4 separate regions of the Homo sapiens genome follow, and regions 1, 2 and 4 are each reported to be linked to region 3. Evidence: microRNA targets listed by miRTarBase, many of them from high-throughput screens and not tested one by one. Region 3 holds a microRNA gene; each other region holds the end of a gene's coding sequence.

Region 1 (3,183 bases), not on the chromosome of region 3:
GTTTGTGTAGCAGTTTGGAAAAGAGTTTGTGAGAAAATGTGTGGCTATGCAGGGGTACGGATTGAGGAAGAAAACAAAGCTATGTTTACATAATGATTATATCTACATATAATTAGGTATACACAGGGATAAATATTGAAGAGGAATATATATGAAGGGTAGCAAATCCAAATATATTGAGAAGAGCTGGTGAGATTTTTTCTCTGCCTTCTTGTTATCAGAGATAAAGTAACTTTAAAAATGTTCTCTTTTGTTTCCTTAGGGCAAAGCTGTTGGGGTGACTATTGGCTGCATTCTAGGAATGTTTCCTTTAATTTTCTTTGGAGGAGGTGAAGAAGATGAAAAACTGGAAACGAAAAGTTAATCCTCTTAGAATACCTATAAAAAGATGTAAACTAATGTACCTCAGTAATTAAATATGCTGTCACAACATTTAGGAATTAAGACAGTAACAGTATAGATATGGGATCAAATAATTTAGCATGTATTATGGAAAACACTAACTTATTGTGGCTTGATCTTCTTAGGACATCTTTTTTAAAAAGCTGTTTAGTATCATTTTGTGTATATTGTTGAAATGCTTTTTCATCAATAGCAGTCAACATTTTATCCTTTCTTTTTATATTCATAATGTTATTTAAGTGTCATTGATGTACTGTATTGACTTGGGGTTTGCTTATTTGTTACTTAACATGTGTACATGCATGAAAGCATTTTTCGTTGTTCCCTGATAGTTACATTTCAACCTTGGGATTTTTCCAAATTACTTAAGATGTTTAATGTCAGTTAAAGATTTTTTTACCCTCTTTTTGGGAACATCAATTTTGTACTGTTATGCAGTAAACATTTATAATAATATAATTTCAGTCATTTCTTAACTGTCACATCTATTGAAAATGGATATAGATACAGGTTTTAAGTATTTTAAGTATATATTACTTATTTTAATTTTCTGACTTTACTATTTTAAGGGCCAGAGGGTTAATCACAAAGAGCAATTATGTGGTCTCCCTGCTACATGAAACCGTGTATACTAACAAGCGTACAATTTTTAGTTGATTTTTTTTAACCTTTTAGTTTCCCAGTTTTGAATAATTACATGGTGGATTCTGACTTTTGAGGGGAAGCAAATGATTATTTTAGAGTCTTTGAAATGGGGATTGTGGAATTAGATTGAACTAAGGGATTTAACATGATGCTTGGAAATTAAGAGACTAAAGCTTTTTTTAAAAAAAGGTGGAAAATAGGAACTGTCAAGAAGGTTTATGGTATAAATGATGAAGTTGAAGTGATGTTTGAAAGATTAATGAGATACAATTTATATTATTTGGTAAGGTTTTTTTTTTTCCCTCCAAAGATGTCATCTTCTCATCTGAATGGAATAAGTCTGAATACCCCATATTCATACTCCTAATCTCATTATATCTTATTTAGTGAATTTTATTTATGAATAATTTCTGTTGAAGTGAAAACTAGATATTTAATATTTTGCTTTTTTGCTACATAGTCTACTCAAAAATTACATGAGGAGAAATCCTTTTTCCCTTTGTTTTTCTTTTTTCTTCTTTTGTGGTATTTAAAGCATATTTTAGGTTGAAGTTACTTATTTCTAGTCTTGTACTTCTGGCTTAAGTATAACCATGTAAGAATTATAAATTTTAGTTTTCTGAACCCTTAAACTTTTTTAGCATGTGGTCTGTTACACATGCTAAAAAATTAGTCTTACTTGTAACAGCGTAATTAAACACATCATGGAGGAGAGAAACTTAAAATTAAAATAGTATTTTGGCTTTTGAAGTTATTTGTGTTGCTAAATAGATGCAGAGGTTTTACAGCAGTTTATTTTAAGGTTTTATTTATACATAATTACTTTGAACTCTTCAGAGTAGATATTTTTTCACAAGGCAGTTTGTCATAAATTCTCTCATGCGCTTCAGAATGCATAAGTGCCATCCTTTAATCATAGACTTTGAGGAGAGAAAGCATAAAAATATAGCATATAATCTAAAAATAAATATATAACATGCACAAATAATGTGACATTCTTACTGAATCAAATCATGATTCTAGAACTTGAGATCTTAAATAGAATTTCGGTTTGTATCTTCCATATAATAACCACACACAGATAACCACACAAAAAATCCTTTGTAAAATTTCTGATTGATAGGATTAGAGTGCTTAAATTTTTGGGGGGGGAAGGGTGGGGTAAAGTGTAAGTGCTTTCTTTTGTCCCTAACTTGTGTATTGATGGCAGTCCACTCTGTTTTCTAAAAATGTATTTTACTGTGGTGCTTAACTTCTTATTAATTAAATCCCGTATCAGAAACCTTGCCTGTGACTTTAGAAAGGGCTTTTGATTATTGTTTTTTCTTCTTGCTCTTGAAAGTAATCTGGTCCCAGGGAATTACTGGTTTAACTGAACATCTCCAGAATTATTTAAGGTGTCAAAATATATAACCTTCACATTGAAAGATAATTTTAATTTATGGGCATAATAAAAATTTGAATCATTCAGGTAATTTTCAAAAAATGGAGACCATTTGTCTTTAACTGAAGGTATATGTTTAAGATCATAGTCTACCCTAGTATGGTGCTTTGCCACAAAGTGATTTCTGAAGAATGGTTCTTTTTAAGATAATGACTTCATATGATCATTGTTTCATGTTACTTGCCACAAATAACTTTAATTTAGGTTGAAACTGGAACTGTTTGTTTCTCATATTAGCTACTTCTCTATTAGGAGCACAAGAACCATAGTTAAATGCAACATGAGCTACTTTAGTCCTGTTTGTTTAAATTTGTGTTGTCCATGTATTATGATTTATTAACTTGTTGATGCATGTAAATTGGGTGCATTTTGTTGCCATGTATGTTAAATGGTGACCAATGTTTTTACAAAGGAATTGAACAAAAAAAGTATCTTTTAAGAAATTTGGAATGTGGTTTTGATTTTGAAATTTGATTTCTTACTAATCTCAGAGGGCCTTGGTATATTCTGTTACTAAAGCAAACAGGATTAATGAATACGGATTTGTTACAAGGTGGCAGCAATGTCACTGAGATAGTGAATGGAACAATTTACCACCTCCCTGGAATCTGCACCTGAGATACAACATCAGCGTATGAGTGAAGAGTGAGCCCATAGAAAAGCTTTAGATAGACTCACATAAGTCACACTGA
Region 2 (3,183 bases), not on the chromosome of region 3:
AGTGTTTGGAATTAAATTACATCTGAGTATAAATTTTCTTGGAGTCATATCTTTATCTAGAGTTAACTCTCTGGTGGTAGAATGAAAAATAGATGTTGAACTATGCAAAGAGACATTTAATTTATTGATGTCTATGAAGTGTTGTGGTTCCTTAACCACATTTCTTTTTTTTTTTTTCCAGGCTATTCAAGATCTCTGGCAGTGGAGGAAGTCTCTTTAAGAAAATAGTTTAAACAATTTGTTAAAAAATTTTCCGTCTTATTTCATTTCTGTAACAGTTGATATCTGGCTGTCCTTTTTATAATGCAGAGTGAGAACTTTCCCTACCGTGTTTGATAAATGTTGTCCAGGTTCTATTGCCAAGAATGTGTTGTCCAAAATGCCTGTTTAGTTTTTAAAGATGGAACTCCACCCTTTGCTTGGTTTTAAGTATGTATGGAATGTTATGATAGGACATAGTAGTAGCGGTGGTCAGACATGGAAATGGTGGGGAGACAAAAATATACATGTGAAATAAAACTCAGTATTTTAATAAAGTAGCACGGTTTCTATTGACTTATTTAACTGCTTTATACTTTGTCAAAGAAATAATTAATGTAGTTAGGAATGGCAAATAGTCTTGTAAAATTCTATGAGAATGTCCCTGCCCTCCCCTTCAATATTCTCTCTGGAGCTAACCACTTTTTCATCATAAGGATTTAGTGCTGTGTTCCCACCTCCTGATGATAGTTAACAATTATTATAACTATGCAACATGTTTCCAAATGTTCCATTAGACCTCCTATCTGCCTATTCTAGCCTCACTTGCAAAGAAAATGTGGCATGTTAAAACAGCTTAAAAGCAGCCTTTCAACCTGTATGGTTTTTTCCCCTAGGCTGGAGTGCAGTGGCACAATCTCAGCTTATTGCAGCTTCTGCTTCTTGGGTTCAAGCAGGTCTCCTGCCTCAGCCTCCCAAGTAGCTGGGATTACAGGTGTGAGCCACCAGCCCGGCTAATTTTTGTATTTTTAGTAGAGATGGGGTTTCACCTTGTTGGCCAGGCTGGTCTCGAACTCCTGAGCTCAAGTGATCTGCCCACCTCGGCTTCCTAAAGTGCTAGGATTATAGGTGTGAGCAACTGCACCTGACCTCAACCTGGATTCCTTATCTGAATCAAAGCAATTATTTCAGTGACTATTTGCTCAAGTTGCCTAGTACTTCTTACAGATGTATAGGAGAAAATTTATCACGTAGATAATGAGGATATTCAGAGACTAATTAGCACCTTTATATGTTCTGCCTTAAGCTGATTACATGATCTGAGTCAGATATACTGATTTGATTTCTATTGTTTTGTTGTGCTTTATACTCCAGTAGTTTGAGTAGGTGAGGGAATGTTCTCCAGTTCTGTGCCGTTTTCCTTGGGAGATTTTCATCTCCCACTTCTATCCATTCTTAGTCTGGTTTGATTGTCTTGGATGGTTTTTCTCATTCCTTTTTGTTTAAACTTGGGAAAGAGACTTTGATTTTGTCTTTAAATTTTTGTGTTGATTTTAATATACCAACTGCTTGCTGCTTTGGGCGTGTATCTGAAATCTAAAAAACATTACTCAACATTTTATTTATTCCAACATTTTGAAGTGATCGTGAATTTTTTTTCTTTCTTGTTTTGAGACCTATTCTCGTCTGTCACCTAGGCTGGAGTGCAGTGGTGCGATCTGAGCTCACTGCAGTCTCCTGTCTCAGCCTCCAAAATAGTTGGGATTACAAGTGTGTGCCACCACACCTGGCTAAGTTTGTATATACATATAAAAATAAATAAATATATAAATATATAGTATATAGATATACTAAAATATACATATATTTTAGTATAGATGGTTTCGCCATGTTGGCCAGTCTCGAACTCTTGACCTCAAGTGATCTGCCCGCCTCAGCCTCCCAAAGTGCTGGCATTAGGCGTGAGCCAGTGTGCCCAGACAGGTTTTCATCCTATGTGTTTTTGCCTTTAACTTTCTAGTAGCCTGTTTCATTTAGCAGGTTGGCATTTGTTAACTAGGCTGATAGTTGTATTTTGAATCGGATCTGTAGATGTTAACCCTTCTCACTTCTAGGATAGTTCTCCACTTTGGAGAGTGGAGAAAAGTTTGGGTACAGTACTATCTTGTCTCATAACCAGTTTCTGGGTGTCATATATGTGTTCTAATTGTTTACTGTGGGTTGTGGTTTCCTTCATTAATTCAGTATCCTCTATCCTCTATCCATATCTGTCCATGTTTTTCTATACCTTTATTTTAATGAAGACTCAAGAGAGGATGGTATGTTGATTGCCTCACTGGAAAGTACTTTTTTTTTTTTTTTTTTGGTGCCACCATGCCCAACTAACTTTTTTGTCAAGACGGTGGTTTTGCCATGTTGCCCAGACTGGTCTTGGACTCTTGGGCTCAAGTGATCTCCCACCTCAGCTTCCTAAAGTGCTAGGATTACAGGTGTGAGCCATCACATCTGGCTGGAAATGATATTAATGTGATTTTTTTTTTGGCCAATTTTTAGAGTGATGGATTGATACCTAGCAGCCTGTGAAAAGGAATCAGTGAATTTATCCTTAATTCAGATTTTCATGTATTTGTATGTATATCAACCCACTGTGTTTTTTTGGTGCTGATATTTTCTTTTTGACCAAGGGAATCCCCTTCAAGCTTGCTCCTACCATAGCAGGTCTCAATAATCTGATCACTCTTCGATTTCTTGTGTGACGGGGTGTTTCATCTTGCTCATTTTCTTCCTCAGACCTGGAGGGGCCATTTCCCCCAAAGAACCTTGGCTCCCTTAGAAATAATGGTATTTGTAGACCACTGTCTGGGTGGGAACATTGCTTGTTAATACTGGGTTCTAGGTTAGCCAGTTGATTAGATCAGACCAGACCCTTTGGAAAAACAAGGGAATGAACAATTCTAAGTGCTGAGGAGGGCATCCATGCACAGGTTGGCTGACAAGCTTTTCATAAGTCAACAGTCAATGTAACTACAGAGCTGCCCTCAGTTTCAACCAGAGAACAGGTAAAATAGGTTACAGTAGTAAAAAGTAAGGCCATGCAGGGAAAGCAGATGAGCTTAAAAATATGCTAATACAGAATAATAGGTTTATAGTGGTGTATCACTGCAGAAAATACGTGATTTTGACTTAATATGTAGTCACAGATTA
Region 3 (3,183 bases):
GGTCCTGTAGCCCACCTTTTGAACAAAGTCCTCCTGGTGTGAAGATCACCAGGCACCTGTGTAGAGGAGGATTGGCAGGGATGGGGCCTGAGGCCATGGCTCTGGGAGCTTTCTTGCTTTCACACTGTACTATGTCCTTATATTTTGGTGAGCCGTGATGAGAAGGTTGTTAGGAAACTGACTTTCAAGTATCCTTAAAAATGGTCGTTGCTACTACTGTGATTTGTGATTGGCACACCAATGGACTTTTTTGCAATCGCACATCAGTTGTCAATATCTGGATGAATGCTTCTAAGAATTACTAAAATCGTTTGTTCCATGGGTTGGCTATCTCTCCTACAATCCTGCATTCCTGAAACCTCTGCCTTTCTCACCTCCCATAACCCACTGATCCACTCCTGCTCCCACCTCCTACCCACTCACCTCCAGCCCTGGGTCAGACCTCCCAGCCCAGCACTGCAGCCTTGTGCCCTGCCCCTCTGCCTCCCGCCCTATCCTCACCAACCCTCCTCTACGCAGGTACCTAGCGATCTTCACGCCAGCAGGGAAAAACACTCCATTGCCTGAGCTCTTTTCAGGAGGAACTGGGAGGCTCAGCACAAGCTAAGTGCCAGTAAAGGTTTGTTGAATTAAATGAGATTGAAATATGGAGAAGGGAACCAACATTATTGACTATCTTCTCTTTGCCGAACCCCTTATAGAAGTTAATTATCTCATTAACATTATTGTTTTGACCATTAAATTAGATAACGCTTGTAAAGTGTTTACCCAGTCCAGTTTCTGACCCTTAGTTGAATGCTATTATTATGATAATTGTGGTAACAATCACAAAGCCACTGCAAAATGGACATTGTCATCTTCTGGAATAGATGACAGTATCCGTCTTGCAGTGGCTTTGGACTGTTACCACAATTATGAGAAGGCTCACAGAGACTATGCCACTTGCCTAAAGTCCTCCGCTAGGATTTCAGCCCAGGACTCCCGCCTCCAAAGCAGAGCTCCTTTCTCTTCACCTCATCTCTCATCTCCTGTGGCTTTTTACACAATTCCAGGGCCTAAAGGCCTTCTTCTCTCTCTGCCCCACCAGCCACCATCCCCGACTCCCTAGCTTATTCTCTTAGTCCCCTGTTGGTCTAAAATGGAGAAGCTGCCTCTCATGCCTCCTTCTCATTTTCCAGAGTCAAGCGTCTTAGAAACATGGGTTCTTACACTTCCTAAATCACATTCTCTTAGACTTTGAAACAGAATCGCAGAGCATTGAAAGCAGTAATGAGTTGGGTGGGGTGAGCGGGGAGCTCACATTCAGTGCAGGAATTCCCTCTCAGCACTGGGGGCTGGGCTGGCGTGCAGCCCCTGCCTGACACACGCCTCCAGGAAACAGGAGCTCATGGGCCATTCCTAACCATCAGAAGGTTTTCTTTGTAAGGAGCTGGAGTTGGCCTCTCTCGGGTTCCTCATATTGCTCCTGCTCTGCCCTCTTGGGCCTCCTAGAACAAAGATTTGAGACTGCTGTCACGATGCCTTCAGTCTGTGCTTCGAGGGTCGCTGAGAGTAGGAACACATGGCTTAGTTCCCTCGCCATTCCCTTCCCAACTCCGCAAAGTGGAGGAGCGATTAAAGTTCGCCTCTCACATTCCCAGCAAGCCAGCAAGGCCCGGCTGGCCCGTATCAAATGAGCTGTGTTTATCTCTCAGCCTCTACTGGCAGAGAGGGTGGGACACGGGCCCAGCTGGGGTGCTGGTCAGAGCCAGCCCAACTCTCCAAGGAGTGAATAATGTCTTTCTTCCTCAGTCCCCTCCTCCCACCAGGGAGGGGGTGATTGCAACACTGCCACCACCTTAGGTCTCAGCCTGTTGCTGAAGAAGCCCTGTCCTCCCTTCCTTGGGGCAGCCCTGTAGCCCAGGTCTCTGTGCCAGTTGGCACCCCCTTCACCTCACCGCCTGCTCAGAGCATGAAGACAGAAAGAGTGTCTCAGCCAATGCCCAGGCAGGAGGCCCCTTCCCCCCACCAACAGACCTGGCAGAGGCTGAGAATGTGGGGGGCCTGGCAGGAGGCCTCCAGTGGCCACAATCCCCACCCCACCATACCCTAGAAGGTGACAGGCACAAGGAAGGGTGGCATGGCCTGGAGCTCTCTCTTCCTCAAGTGAGATGAGTGCCCAAGGCCATGCCAGAACCAAGCAGGAGGAAGAACTGCCAGACGGCGACAGGCCGCCTCAGTTCCTGCAGTGCTGGCACTAGCCCCAACCCTTGAACATGGCTGGTGAAAACAGTTTTAGTTCTTTAAGCCACAAGTTCACTGTGTGACATTCAGAGACTCATCCTCCTTTCTCTGAGCCTCAGTTTCCCATCTGCAAAATAAGGGGAGGGGGTAAGCTATGATCTTCAAAGATTTTCTGCATAGATACTTTATGAATCCATGATTTCAACATTTGAAGACTCCAAAATTCTAGGATTCTAAGGTTCAGGATTTTGAGAATTCCATGTTTCTAAGAACCTGTCTTTCCTTAGAACACAAAGCTTCTAGAATTGTCCAATGTTGTGGTTCTAAGATTCGATCATTCCAAGATTCTATGATTCTTGGATGTGTTGATGGTCTCATACATCTTAGGCTCTCAGAGGCTCCAAAGTGGGTTAGGATGAAGTTCAGGGAGCCAGTAGGACCAGTCCTGAGTGACACAGGTGTGTCACCTGAGTGTGAAGGAGGTAGAGTTTGTCTCATACCTCACTCCCTTCCCATACACTCCCTTTGGTCCTCTGTGGCGTTCCCACCTCTGCCCTGGCCTTGGACCTGCCCTGATTCCTCTCCCACCCCACCACCAAGTCTCATCCCACCTGTGCCCATGCATCCCTCCCCATCTCAGAGACCAAGCATGACTTTTCTCAGGGACCCTTTGGAGTCAGATCGGCTGGGGTTCAAATTGTGGATTTGGCTTTTATTTGCAGCCTGAATTTAGACAAGTTACCTAACCATTCTGGGCCTCTGTTTCCACATCTATTAAATGGAACTAATAACAATCTTTACCTCTCAGAGTTACTGTAGAATTAGGTCAGATAATATATGTAATATGCCTAGTGCCTGACATATATTATATGCTCAACTAAATAGGTTTAAAAAAAAACAGATCTGGGCACTGACCCCAGACTTCCTTAATAGTTTGTTTCCTGTGGTGTTTCTTTGACT
Region 4 (3,165 bases), not on the chromosome of region 3:
CATCTACCACTCAAGGGATTTGTTACTTAACCCCTGAACAAAACTTGACTCATCATTCCTTTGTTTTTCTCCACATTTGTATTATATAGATTATAAAGGGTTCTTAAATAAGGACATTAGCAGATAATGATTCTGTATTCTGTGAAGAACTTAGCAAAATTAGTGGTTTTTTATTACTGATTACACTAGTGTTATCTAGAGGTTTTTCTATTACTCAAACGTATTATTTGACAGAAATGACATAAGTTCTCAGAAGATGGAGCCGGAAAACCAGCCCTTGTCCATGGCCATGCAGTTACATCGGCCATGAAAGATAATTTTCACCTACTGCACTCACATATTCCTAGTAGAACTAGGTCCATATTTTAAAATACTTCTAAAATTATTTTTAAAATCAATGATGATTTAACAAGTGCAATTATTATTTTTTCGTCTTACAGAGTATTTCTGAAGAAATGTTTTATCAACTTAGTAACATGCTTCCCCAGATCTTCCGAGTATCATCAACACTCACTCTGACATCCAAGCACTAAACCCTTATAGATTGACATGCTGGCAGAAGATGATTGTTAAACTCTCCAGGAACTTGTGCTATGCTGGGAATCTGTCAAGCAAAAGATGCCCAGAAAGAGAACTTGCAGCTCAATCCACAAATCAAGATACATGTGTGTGAAACCATTCCAAAAATTTATATACTGCACAAACTGGTGATCAACCCCTAACTTAAACACTTAAAGTCTCTTTATGAATTTCTCTTTTTTTCTTCTCTGTGTTACCTGTGAATATTAGTAATCTAAAACTTTTTATTTATCACACATGGACACTTGGGAAAGGAAACTTGATTATATTTACATGGAGGCATTTGACTTTTTCAAGAGGCTTGACTCGTCTCAGGTGCAATCCTTAATTAAACATACAAACAAAATTTTCCTTTTACTTTCTTTGCCAAAACAAAATGTAAAAGCACTGAAATATACATTGCAAGTACAAATTTCCTGTGAAAATCTTTTTATAGAAACACAAATGTATAAGACAAATGTGCTTGTTCTTTTAAATTCTCCTGTTTCAGAATCTCTTTTTAATCTACTCCTAAGGATGTACAAGTTAGAGTCAGAAGACGTTTTGGATTTTTTCCCTCTCTCTCATCCTCCCGCTGTGCCCTTGCACTTGCATATTAATAACATTTCATGGACTGGGAAATAGTGTTCTTTTTTGCAAGCTTGATGTCAAGTTAGTCTAAACCAGCACCTGGCAGTATTTTAGTGCTCATCAACATTGTGACAATCACACAAGGAAGATCATTTCTACATTTCTGTCCTCCCTGCGTTCTCAGCTTGCTTAACCATTCCTCTACCTCTTGCATTTTTTTGCGGATAAATGTATCCCCATTTCTGCTTCTCTGTTTCCCCTCCTTTTCCATTGTTTTTCCTTATGGTACTACTTTCTCAGGTGCTACATATCATATATTTGTCCCATCTATAACATATTTAAATGCTATAAGTAGTAACTCCATTAAACAAAGGCATTTACAAAAGCACACAGGTGTTTAGAAAAGCAATAGTTTCATCAATTCCAAGTTATGTGGATATTGTAACTGGCCACAAGAATGAAATGGAGGGCATTTGGTGTCATAAGATGGCATGTCTTGATGACAAGAAACAAAACGCCCTTCATTAATATGCCTCAGTGTAATAACTATTATAGAAACTGTTGGCAAGCAGAGTGCTTTCCTATAACAGAATGTGTCTTAATTTTCTACTCGAGGGAAAGGTTTGTCCAGGTAACAACACTAAAGACAACCCTAAGAACACCCACTCCAGCAGTATGTCCATTAGACACTAAAACTCTCCAAATTATTTGTCAGGGAGCCTGGCGATTCTGCCAAGAAGGCAGGTGTTTTGCCCTTAGAGCCTATACAGTTCTCTTGGAGAAATTGTCTTTCAGGCACCACTGTTAATCACTGAGACTGATTCTAATGCAAAGCAGGGAAGACAGAGGCAGAAACCAGGAGAGTGGTAGATCAGTGCAGCCCAGATATCGGAATGGAGGAGCAAAGTTTCATTCACGGATGTTTGTTGAATGCTGCTGCCCAACTCTTCCTTTGTCACCTCTAGGCTATTCCACTAAGTTACTTATAAACTGGTGGCTTTAACTGAGGGCTGTGTAAAGGTACTATTTGGCATGTGAAGTCAGGATAAATTTATCGAATGTCCGTTTTCCACATGCAACTGTGTTACAGAAGTAGTAAAATTGGAAGAATCATGTTTATGGTGTTACCACTGATGGAAACACACAAACACCAAGCTAATAATAAATATATAACTTAAAAAGCTAATTATATGCACTGAAATGGTGGGAATTTTAGTGATGCAGTAATTGAGGAGTCTGGAGTTTTGTATTTGGACCAAGAATTATGAGATGAGGATCTTTTTCTGAGTGTTCTAAAGGGCTTCTTGAGGGGGAGTGGTTTAAAGCACTTCATGAATGATGTGAAGAAGGTACCTTGGGCTGAGACAGCATTCTAGGTACAGATGGCACTCTGTTCAACCAACTGTGGATGGAAAATATTCTGAAAAAAAATACAATAAAAATTTTAAAAATACAATATAACATCTGTTTACATGGCATTTACATTGTATTTGGTATAAGTAATGTATAGACGGATTAAGTATATGGGAGGCTGTGTGTAGGTTGTATGCAATTACTACACCACTTTATATGAGACTGGAGCATCCAGGGATATTGATATTGGCAGGGGGTCTGGAACCAGTCTCCTGCAGATACCAAGGGACAACTGAGTAAGGCGCAGATAGGAGCAGAAGCAGAATGGAGGCAGTGGTAAATGGCCAGTAAGTTGAGAGGAGCTGACCACGAGAGTCTTTGAGGATGGGGAGATTAGCACAAACATTGACATTGGTGAGGATTGTGAGTTAGAAGTTTTCTATTTGTATAAACAGTTACATATTCCTAAATGGCCCTCAAGGCCTTAAGAGTGTGCTTTGGAAATCAGGCAGAGGCACTGAACCTGAGGTCTCCATTCTGTGCTGCTCTTTCCCCCCCTTCCCCCATTTCTGCTCTCGAAGCACCACACAAGCAAAGCCATTGATCTAGAAGTGTGGCACCAGCTGTTTCTCAGCATGACAGTGTGACCAGAATGGAAGAAAT

The links. The annotated mature microRNA hsa-miR-4696 reads UGCAAGACGGAUACUGUCAUCU and lies in region 3 at 868-889, opposite strand. An mRNA with a match to its seed (bases 2 to 7 or 8) in the 3' UTR can be bound and repressed. Matches are read on the target gene's strand: a 7mer-m8 pairs with bases 2 to 8, a 7mer-A1 pairs with bases 2 to 7 and ends in A, and an 8mer does both.
Region 1: miRTarBase lists TMEM65 as a target of hsa-miR-4696. The part of its 3' UTR that is shown has no 7-base or 8-base seed match.
Region 2: miRTarBase lists NPM1 as a target of hsa-miR-4696. The part of its 3' UTR that is shown has no 7-base or 8-base seed match.
Region 4: miRTarBase lists FERRY3 as a target of hsa-miR-4696. Seed matches in the 3' UTR shown: 7mer-A1 at 1,356-1,362.

What each region holds. Positions count from the first base shown.
Region 1 is chr8:124,311,141-124,314,323 of GRCh38, reverse strand. TMEM65 (transmembrane protein 65) reads left to right here. Exons shown (of 7, transcript NM_194291.3): 7 at 263-3,183. The coding sequence ends at 364. Among named protein-coding and RNA genes, the nearest start is that of TMEM65, 60 kb to the left of the region's middle.
Region 2 is chr5:171,410,346-171,413,528 of GRCh38, forward strand. It overlaps NPM1 (nucleophosmin 1), which reads left to right. Exons shown (of 11, transcript NM_002520.7): 11 at 182-555. The coding sequence ends at 220. Among named protein-coding and RNA genes, the nearest start is that of FGF18, 7.7 kb to the right of the region's middle.
Region 3 is chr11:74,719,440-74,722,622 of GRCh38, forward strand. MIR4696 (microRNA 4696) reads right to left here and starts at 898; the gene lies at 829-898. All of the region lies in intron 1 of CHRDL2 (chordin like 2), which reads right to left.
Region 4 is chr12:4,487,175-4,490,339 of GRCh38, reverse strand. FERRY3 (FERRY endosomal RAB5 effector complex subunit 3) reads left to right here. Exons shown (of 14, transcript NM_020374.4): 14 at 441-2,605. The coding sequence ends at 533. Among named protein-coding and RNA genes, the nearest start is that of FGF6, 43 kb to the right of the region's middle.